Linked DNA regions of Homo sapiens. The protein of the gene in region 1 interacts with the protein of each later gene in a pairwise test. Each region holds a gene or a part of one and is shown on either strand. Other genes may lie near its edges. The genes, in order: FAM156A, TEX11 and ATRIP.

Region 1 (3,652 bases):
TGGCCACCGTGGTGAAACCCTGTCTCTACTAAAAATACAAATGTGAGCCGGGTGTGGTGGCGGGTGCTTGTAATCCCAGCTACTCCGGAGGCTGAGGCAGGAGAATTGCTTTAAACCAGGAGACGGAGGTTGCAGTGAGCTGAGATCATGCCACTGCACTCCAGCCTGGGCGACACAGTGAGACTGTCTCAAAAAAAAAAAAAAAAGTCCATATTTAATTGGGATTATTAAATGAAATCTGTATCTTTAAACTGAAATAAATGCATTTTATTATCTCATATTATTGTGGAAGATTGAAAAAAGCATCACATGGGACTGGCTTAATTTTGAAAAGAAACACAAAGCTCTTCCTGGCGCTCATCTGCAGGGTGTCGTCTGGATTCACTTGCTTAGCTGTTCTCTTTCTCCTTCCGCACAGGAGAATTGAAGCGAATGAGAGTGGGGAGTGTGAGAGGTGCGTTTGGTGCAGCATTTCTGGCATGGGAACAGAACTGGCCAGGAGGAAGTGACGGTAAGGATTCGCAGCATTGCACCCGATCCCCGGGCAGCTGTGGACATGCGGGTCAGCCCCTAGGACTCTGCTGTCTGAACTCTTCCCTCAGGATTACTTTCTCGCTTAGGTATCAGGGGAGGCTGAACACCCAGAGAGGCAATGCCACCAGGGGTGTGTTCATCTGCAGTCAGGGAGACCTGGGAGGGAATTCTGTCCCTGAGTGGTTGTGTGATCTGAGGGAAGTTACTTGACCTCTCCATGCAGGAATTTCTGCCTTTGCAACGTGGGAAAATATGGATTCTGCAGGGTTGACTTGACATTCTCAGTGAGATGTTTATCACGGGCCCCACATCCTTCTTGTTTCATTTGATAGATATTTGTGAATGTCCACTGGGCTCAAGGCTCTGTGATGGGTGAACAAGACAAAGTCCCTGGCCTCTGTCAGCTCCTGGGCTAGTGGGTTGACAGAGAAATAACCATCTGTTGACAGCTGAGTGGGATTGGGGCTGGGACAGGGGAAATACAGGGCGTTTTAGGAGCTTGGAGAAGGCTTCCTGGGAGAAGTGCTATCTCAGCTGAGTCATGCAGGGTGAATGAGAGGTGAAAGTCTTGCCAAGGGCCATGGCAGTCCCAAACTACAGGCACCCATCACTATACCCGGCTAATTTTTATTTTTAGTAGAGATGGGGTTTCACCCCGGTGGCCAGGCTGCTCTCGAACTGCTGACCTCAAGTGATCCACCCGCCTCAGCCTCCCGAAGCAGGGATTACAGGCGTGAGCCACTGTGCCCAGCGTGATTGTAAATGTTAATCATGTCCACAAATACCTTCCCAGCAACAACTAGAGTAGCATTTGACCAAAAGGGACCAGGCACCAAGCCTGGCCGAGTTGACCGATAAAACCATCACAGTGAGGGATTGGTACCCAGAGACATCACCTCTCATGCTGAAGGTCTGACCGGTAAACTGTCTGGGTTCCCTGTCTCCAGTAGTCCTTCTCTCTCTTCGGTAGCTGCATGACATGATGCAGGAAACTTGAGGCTGTGGTGTTTCATGCAGAGATTTTTGATACAAGGTCTTTTACCTGGGGGCAAGTGCCTGTTGAAGAAATGACATTGGTGAGATGATGAAGGAAGGGAAGTCACATGTATTGCTGCAGCTGCTCCCCTCCGCACACACAACGGACTTCTCTAGGCCTCACTGTCCTTAATGCCTCTGTCAGGGATCATGAGCAACTCCATGGGTGTGGTTTGAGAATCTCTGGATGAACCTACACATAGGACGGTAAAATGTTTCATTTCACAAAATTGCTGGAGGGAGAAAGAGAGAAAAGAGAGCGATGACTATGCAGGCCGGTTGTCAGTTGATGTCTCCAGAATCTTCCTATTTCTTTTTTTTCTTTTTCTTTTTTTTTTTTTTTTTTTTTTTTTTTTTGAGACAGAGTCTTGCTCCGTTGCCCAGACTGGAGTGCAGTGGTGCAATCTCGGCTTACTGCAACCTCCGCCTCCTGGGTTCAAGTGATTCTCCTGCCTCAACCTCTCTATTACCTGGGATTACAGGTGCCCACCACCACACCCAGCTAATTTTTTTGTATTTTCCGTAGAGATGGCGTTTCGCCATGTTGGCCAGGCTGGTCTCAAACCCCTGACCTCAGGTGATCTGCCTGCCTCGGCCTTCCAAAGTGCTGGGATTGCAGGCATGAGCCACCACACCCGGCTCACATTTCTTCTCATAAAAGTGTTTCTGGCTGGGAACAGTGGCTCACGCCTATAATCCCAGCACTCTGGGAGGCTGAGGCATGCAGATCATGTGGAGCTCAGGAGTTCCAGACCAGCCTAGGCAACATGGCAAAACCCCGTCTCTACAAAAAATACAAAAATTAGCCGGGCATGGTGGCTCACGCCTGTAGTGCAAGCTGCTCAGGCGTCTGAGACTGGAGGATCCCTTGAGCCCAGGAAGCAGAGGTTTCAATGAGCCGAGGTTTTGCCACTGCACACCAGACTAGGTAACAGAGCGAGTCCCTGCCTCAAACAAACAAACAAAACAGCAAAAGAAACGTGGGGGGTGGGGGTCGTAAGGTCTTTTCTCTCTCTGAGAATTGGCTTTCTACATGTAGAAATAGATCCTGAGAGAGTCCTTGTGACACATGAGAATTGGCTGGGAGATAATTGGGTTAAGATCATTTTCCAAACGTTTCACACATTAACTGTTTGTGTCAGATAGTGGTGGCCCAAAGGATGTCAGGGAACTAACTCGTAGGAAAGATAGATTGCAATTTCTGAAAAGTTAAGAACTCTTTCTGGGATGTGTGTGTGTGTGTGTTTATATATGTTTGTGTTCAGTACATATTCAAACTGTTCCTGTTACGGTTCTGTCTTTCTTGCCCCAGTGTGGGCTGATAGCCACGATTTGGTGAATAAACATTCAGAGGACCAGTATCCTCTGAAGAAAACTAGTGAATTCTTGGTTTCCACGTTTGTCAAAAGAATAGAGCCTGGGAGGCTGATCTAAAGTTTCCATTTAGCATTTAATGTCAATTTTTGGTTGCACTCATCCAAGATGTATTTATCAAAACAGTACAGAGAGATACCCTTATCGCAAAATATGCCGTTGGGTTTTTCCACTTAACCTACAGCAAGATTGACTTTTTTCCCTCAGGAGTACAGTTCTGTGAGCTTTGACACGGGCATACATTCTTGTCACCACCACCACAGTCGGGATCCAGAACAGTCCCATCACCGCAGGACACTCCCTGGAACTGCCCCATTGCGGTTACCCCTTCTTCATCCATCATCCCTGGTGTAAAGTGATCTGTTTCCTTCCCTCTAGTTTTGTCTTGGGGAGAGTGTTATGTCAATGACACCATACAGTTTGTGGCCTTGTGAGGCGGGCTTCCTTCTTTTGGCCCGATGAACATCTCGGATGAGTGTCAGATGCCTCTGTCACAGGCTGTTGTTTTTTCATGAAGGCAGTTTCACGGTGTGGAAGACCACAGGTGTTCAGCCATCCTTCTACTGAATGACATTTTCCTCTGTCCAGTGTGGGGCAGTTTCGCATCGAGCTGCTTTTACAATTCAGTGCGGGCTTTTTTGTGAACCTAAGTTTTCATTTCTCTAGGGTAGATACCCAGGAGTGGGATGGCTGGGTCCTATGGTAAACA
Region 2 (3,652 bases), about 18 Mb from region 1:
AATCTGTGTGCTTGTGGAAGGGAGAGCACAGTGATTGTGGGATCTTGCTTGGAACTCAGTGCTGCCCTGTCACAGCAGAAAGTAACACTGGGCAGAACTCAACTGATGCTCATGGAGGGAGTATTTAGACCAGCCCTAGCTAGAGAGCAATTGTCCATCCCAGTAGTTGGAACTTGAGTTCCAACAAGCCTTGCCACTGAGAGCTAAAGTGCTCTGGGGTTCTAAATAAATTTGAGAGGCAGTCTAGGCCACAAGGACTGCAACTCCTGGGCAAATCTTTGTGCTGTGCTGGGCTTGGAGCCAGTGCATCTGGGGGACATGCGACCTAGTGAGACACCAGCCAGGGCAGCCAAGGGAGTGATTGCACGACCCCTCCCTCAACCCCAGGCAGTGCAGTTTGCAGCTCCAAAACAGACCCCTTCCTTCCACTAGAGGAGAGGAGAGGGAAGCTTAAGGGGGACTTTGTCTTGCATCTTGGATACCAGCTCAGCCACAGTAGGACAGGGCACTTGGCATAGTCATGAAGGTCCCATTCCAGGACCTAGTTCCCAGATAACATTTTGAGACACACCTCGGGCTAAAAGGTACCCACTGCCTTGAAGGGAAGGACCCAGTCTCGGCAGGATTCATCACCTGCTGACTAAATAGCACTTTGGCCCTCAGTGATCAGCAGCAGTAGCCAGGTAGTACATACTGTGGGCCTTAGGTGAGACTCTGAGACATGCTGGCTTCAGTTGTGACCCAGTACATTCCCAGCTGTGGTGGCTATGAGGAGAGACTCCTTCTGCTTGAGAAAAGCAGAGGGAAGAGTAAAGAGGATTTTGTATTGCAGCTTAGATATCAACTCAGCCACAGTGGGTTAGAGCACCAAGTGGGCTCCTAGGGTCCCCGGTTCCAGGCCTTGGCTCTTGGATGGCATTTCTGTACCTGTCCTGGGCCAGAGAGGAGCCCACTTCTCTGAAGTATGAGTCCCAGGCCTGGCAGCATTCACCACAAGCTGATTGCAGAGCCCTTGGGCCTTAAGTGAACACTGGCAGTAGCCCAGCAGAACTCCCCACACCACCTGATGGTGGTGGCCACGGGGAGAGACTCTTCTGCGTGTGGAAAGAGGAAAGAGTGGGAAGGACTTTGTCTTGTGGTTTGGATACCAGCTAAGCTGCAGTAGAATAGAGCACTAGGTAGATTTCTAGGGTTTCTGACTCCAGGCCCTGGCTCCTGCATGTCATCTCTGGGGCCAGGGGGAAGTTGCTGCCCTGAAGGGAAGGACAGCCTGGCTGGCTTCATCACCTGCTGACTGTAGAGCCCTAAGGCATTGAGCAAACATAGGTGGTAGCCAGGTAGTGGTTACAGTGGGCCTTGGGTGAGACCCAGTGCTGTGCTGGCTTCAGGTCTGACCAGCACAGTCCCAGTGGCAGTGGCCACAAGGGTGCTTGTATCACCCCTCCTCCAGCCCCAGGCAGCTCAACATAGTGGAACAGAATAGCAAACCCAGAAATAAATCCATACATCTACAGTGAACTCATTTTTGACAAAGGTGCCAAGAACATACTTTGGGGAAAGAAGAGTCTCTTCAATAAATGGTGCTGGGAAAACTGGATATCCATATGCAGAAGGAGGAAAGTTGAGATCCCTATGTCTTGCCTTATACAAAGATCAAATCAAAATGGATTAAAGACTTAAATCGAACACCTCAAACTATGAAACTACTACAAGAAAATATTGGGAAAGCTCTCCAGGATATTGGAGTAGGCAAAGATTCCTTGAGCAATATCCTACAAGTATGGGCAACCAAATCAAAAATGGACAAATGGGATCACATCAAGCTAAAAAGCTTCTGCACAGCAAAGGAAACAATCAACAAAGTGAAGAGACAACCTGCAGAATGAGAGAAAATATTTACATACTACCCCTCTGATAAGGGATTAATAACCAGAATATATACAGAGCTCAAACAACTCTATAGGAAAAAAAATCTAATAATCGAGTTTTAAAATAAGGAAAATATCTGAATAGACATTTCTCAAAAGAAGACAAACAAATGGCAAACAGGCATATGAAAAGGTACTTACTATCACTGATCATCAGAGAACTGCAAATCAAAACTACAGTGAGATATCATCTCACCCCAGTTAAAATGGCTTATATCCAAATGACAGGCAATAATAGGAAGTGCTGGTGAGGATGTGGAGAAAAGGGAACCCTTGCACACTGTTGGTGGGAAAGTAAATTAGTACAACCACTATGGAGAACAGTTCGGAGGTTCCTCAAAATACGAAAAATTGAGTTACCGTATGATCCAGCAATCCCACTACTGGATATATACCCAAAAGAAAGGAAATCAGTATATCAAAGAGGTATCTGCACTCCTATGTTTGTTGCAGCACTGTTTACAATAGCTAAGATTTGCAAGCAACCTAAGTGTCCATCAACAGATGAATGGATAAAGAAAATGTGGTACCTATACACAATGGAGTACTATTCAGCCATAAAAAAAATAAGATCCAGTCACTTGCAACAACATGGATGGAACTGGAGGTCAGTATGTTGAGTGAAATAAGCCCAGCACACACACAAAAAACAAACTTCACATGTTCTCACTTATTTGTGAAAGCTAAAAATTAAAATAATTGAACTGCTGGGGAGAGAAAGAGTAGAGTGATGGTTACCAGAGGAGGGGTGGGGGAAATGTGGAAATGGTTAATAGGTACAAAAAATAGAATGAATAAGATCTGTACTTAATAGCACAACAGGGTGATTATAATCAACAATAATTTAATTGTACATTTTAAAAAACTAAAAGTATAATTGAATTGCTTGTAACACAAAGGATAAATGCTTGAGGTGATGGATACCCCATTTATCCTGATATGATTATTATGCATTATATGCCTGTACCAAAAAATCTCATGTACCCCATAAGTATGGGTACATGTACACCGCTATGTACCCACAAAAATTAAAAATAAAACATTTTTAAAACTAAAAAACACTGGATTGTAGTGATAGTTGCACAACTCTATAAATTTACTGAATTGTGCACAAGCCATGGGTGAATTTTATGATATGTGAATTATACCTCAAGAAACCTAATTTTAAAACAACTGAATAAACCTGCACAGAAAAGAAAAAGAAATCAGCAGAGGAGGGACTAGAATACAGGTCTTCAATGTTCCTTCTACTCTTCTGAGAAAGGATGCTTCTGAGAAAGGATGGGAATAGCAATAACTTTTTTCAAAAGGTTCATATCATCACAGAGAAAGTAATCATCCCACCATGATTTGAAAATATAAAATAATTCAAAATGCCTGGTGGTACTGCTACTTGGACCTAATCCATAATACACTTGTGTTAGAAAATGTCTACTTTCAACTATTTATATTTCAGAAACCCAGGAAAATTCTGTAGTGTGTAACTACAAAATTGTAATATGAATTTATCCTAAAACTCATATCAGAAAGCATTATTGTATATAATTTATAGTACACAAGACAGTTCAGTTCTTTAAAATTAACTGAAAGTTTAATATCACTATTTGACTTACAGTGCGGCTAATGTGGCTCAGAGCATCTTCAAAATAGCCCCAAACTTCTTCCAGGGGACAGAGCTCTACATTCGACGCCCCATCTGGCACTGAGAGGTTAACCAAGTTGTG
Region 3 (3,652 bases), on another chromosome or scaffold:
GGGGGAGGAAATGCACGGCTCCAGGAAGCTGGCAGAGTGGGAAGGCCCTTCTGCCTCCCTCTGCTGGGTCTCCATCACGTGAGCACTCATTCCGGGCAACCAGATTCAGTCCAGTGAATGCCAGGTTCTGTGCTTCTCTCAGGGCTGAGAGGGAAAATGACCCATCATAAGAACCTGTGGTCCTGAGGCCTGACATTCCAGCCAAGGTACTGGCAACAAACACAAAGAAAAATAGATTAAGTGTGGGATGGAGATAAGGTCAAGAGCCCCAAACAGCCTGCCTGCCAAATTCTCCAGGCTGCCTGCCCTTCCCACAGACTTCTCAGGCTGGCCAGGGCCAGAAAGGAATTTGCTTCCAGGAAGCTCCTTCCCAAACAAGCTTTCCAGGAGTCTTATGCTTACCTGCCAAACCCTGGTGGCTGCAGGGGGGTGCCAGCAGGAGACTCAGAACTACTACTCAGGAGGTGGCAAAGGCTTAGGGATGACCCTGGGATCAAAGGCTGCTTCAGGAGCAGGTTTATCAAAATGGAACCTGCAGAAGACAAGATGACTCTAGAAGGTTCTGACATGGGAGATCTTTTCGGTGGCTTTCAGAAGGAAACAGTAAGGATTCTTTGGATGCCAACTGTCCTCTAGGCTGCCACTAAGCCCCAGGAAGATGCCTGTGGGTGCGGAAGGCTCTGGGACATACCTGCCCTTGGCCCTTTCCACTTTATAAAGTCTTCTGCTTAAGCCACATACTTTGACTTCCCTGGACTCTCTGAAGGACTGCCCGGGGCACCGGTTCTCAGAGGCCTGGGCAATTCTTCTGCATATTACTCAGAGCCATGCAGGCCCCTGCAGGAGAAGCAGGGATTCTGGTACCTTGAGTGTTTGATCTCTGTCTCCAGCTGTCAACAAAGCTTTTCTGGGCCTCTTCTTGTTTTATGGAGTCACCTCTCAGACTGTGGGGCTTACTATCTGAAATGTGATAAAATGTAAATCAAAACTTGAGCCCAGAAGCATGGGCATATTAGAAACTTTTACATGCAATGAGTTTAAAACACACGCTGTTCTACTTCTTCGAACTTGGAACAAACAAGAGCCAAAGCGGCTCAAGAGCCCTGCATCTTTTACCTTCCTTATGTAAAACAGGAACTCATACAAGGAAAGGAAAAGAAAATCAAGCTGTTTGCCTCACTCAAAATGAGGCAATTAGATAAAACAGTGACCACTAACATTGACATGGTGCTTGTTACGTGCTAGACAGTGTTTTAAGAGCTCTATACGCATCAGCCCATTTGTTCCTCAGTGACCCTACAAGGATTTATCATTAGGTCTGTTTTACATATAGGGAAACTGAGGCACAGAGACTAAAGGACTTGCCCAAATCATATAAGCCAGTTAACAGCATTACTGGGACTCACATCCAGGCTACTGGGCTCTACTGCCTGCTTGTAACACTACTGTACACTGCCCCTTTAGCTGCTAGATGCCAAAAATGTAAGTGGGCTACAGTTTCTCAGAAGTGTTATGATGGCCAAGGATTTGAAAGGTTGATGGTAAGAAGAGGGTCAATGTATCCGATTTATAAGATACACTGACATAGCAGTCTGAAAACCTACTGATGTTAGATTGTCTCTCTCTAAAAAACAGCAGATCCCCTCAATCTGGACTGAGTTATAAAAACTCAAAAGCTGGACTACAAAAGGAAAACAGAGGCTGGGCACGGTGGCTCATGCCTGTAATCCCAGCATTTTGGGAGGCTGAAGTGGGTGGATCACGAGGTCATGAGATTGAGACCATCCAGGCCAACATGGTGAAACCTGTCTCTACTAAAAATACAAAAATTAGCTGGGTGTGGTGGCGCATGCCTGTAGTCCCAGCTACTCGGGAGGCTGAGGCAGGAGAATCGCTTGAACATGGGAGGCAGAGGTTACAGTGAGCCGAGATCACGCCACTGCACTCCAGCCTGGTGACAGAGTGAGACTCCGCCTCAAAGAAAAAAAAAAAAAACAAGAAAAGAAAAACAGATTCCTGCATACTAGCTAGGTTTTTGGCATGGTCAATTGATGCTGTGATGGTTTAAAAATATGCCCACAAGCATGATGGCAGGTGCCTGTAATCCCAGCTATTCGGGAGTCTGAGGCAGGAGAATCACTTGAACCCGGGAGGCGGAAGTTGCAGTGAGCTGAGATCGTGCCATTGCACTCCAGCCTGGGTGACAGGGTGAGACTCCGCCTCAAAAAAAAAAAAAAAAAGGCCCACAAATGCTTTGACACAACTCCCCTTCAAAAGGTATAAGCTTGGGAGGAGGGGGGAGGGATAGCATTAGGAGATATACCTAATGCTAAATGACGAGTTAATGGGTGCAACACACCAACATGGCACATGTATACATACGTAACACACCTGCACGTTGTGCACATGTACCCTAAAATTTAAAGTATAATAATAAAATAAAAATAAAAAATAAAAATTAAAAAAAAGGTATAAGCTTGGTTTCTCCCCTTGAATGACGCCCAGACTCAGTGATTTGCTTCTAACAAATACAATGTGGCAGAGGGGATGCTGTGTGACTTCTGAGGCTAGGCCATAAATGGATAGCTTCTGCCTGGCTCGCTCTCTCTGGATTTGCTAGCTTTAGAGGAAGCCACCCACCAGGTTAAGAGGATACCCCATATCCATGTGCAGAGGCCCATGTGGCAAGAAATTACACTGCCAGCCATGTGAGTGAGCCACCTTGAAATAGATCCTCCAGCTTAAGACAAGCTTTCAGTGATTCCAGTCCCTGCAGAGATTGTCCCCTCTGTGCCTTGTCAGAATTGCTGATCACAGAAATTGGGAGAAAATAAATAATAATTGTTTTAAGCCACATATTTGGGTAGCTTGTTATACATCAATAGATGACTAATGGACTTACCCTCTCTGCCCACCAGAGGCTTGTATCCTGACTCCGTCTGGCAGGGGTGGGGAAGGGACATGTTAGCACTAAAAGACTCCTTTGTAGGAAAAGATGTTTTTCCAAATTGTGGAGAACATGCTTCTGGCTTTATAACCACAGAAGGGTTTTTCCTAGGACTGGAAAAAGTTAACTATGAAAGCAAAGTAATGATTCTACTAAAACCATTCAAAATATCTGGTTACAAAATTTCTAACAAACTTTAAACTTTTCATGTCTAGGTGTTTTAACCAAAGGTTTTATCTATTATATGTCTACCATTCTTTGTCAGAGGAGCAGTGCAAAATTCCAGGCATTTGTTTTTCTTTTTAAAAATATTTTAAAATTTTAATTTCTCTATAGAGATGGGGATTCACTAAGTTACCCAGGCTGGTCTGGAACTGCTGAGCTCAAGTGATCCACCCACTCTGGCCTCCCAAAATGCTGGGATTACAGGCATGATCCACTGTTACTGGCTAATTCCAGGGATTTTGATCCAAATTATTGAAAATTCTTTTACTCATTTTTATATTTTTCTAATCATCCAAAAATATAATATTAGCCATAATTCCTTTACTATTCTTTATTATCACTATTTACAATTCCACCAAAACATTTTTTTTTGAGACAGAGTCTTGTTCCATTGCCCAGGCTGGAGTACAGTAGCATGATCATAGCTCACTGCAGCCTTGACCTCCTGGGCTCAAGCAATCCACCCATCTGTAATCCCAG

The links.
Region 2: the proteins of FAM156A (region 1) and TEX11 interact in binary tests that used the Homo sapiens proteins (3 or more experiments, as listed by UniProt).
Region 3: the proteins of FAM156A (region 1) and ATRIP interact in binary tests that used the Homo sapiens proteins (3 or more experiments, as listed by UniProt).

Annotation. Positions count from the first base shown.
Region 1 is NC_000023.11:52,952,013-52,955,664, reverse strand, and holds part of FAM156A (protein FAM156A/FAM156B), read left to right. Parts: intron 1-418; 5' UTR 419-511; intron 512-3,652.
Region 2 is NC_000023.11:70,548,585-70,552,236, forward strand, and holds part of TEX11 (testis-expressed protein 11), read right to left. Parts: coding exon 3,542-3,652; intron 1-3,541. UniProt on the Homo sapiens protein: Regulator of crossing-over during meiosis. Involved in initiation and/or maintenance of chromosome synapsis and formation of crossovers.
Region 3 is NC_000003.12:48,456,667-48,460,318, reverse strand, and holds part of ATRIP (ATR-interacting protein), read right to left. Parts: intron 3,061-3,652; coding exon 2,903-3,060; intron 961-2,902; coding exon 865-960; intron 533-864; coding exon 403-532; intron 210-402; coding exon 1-209. UniProt on the Homo sapiens protein: Required for checkpoint signaling after DNA damage. Required for ATR expression, possibly by stabilizing the protein.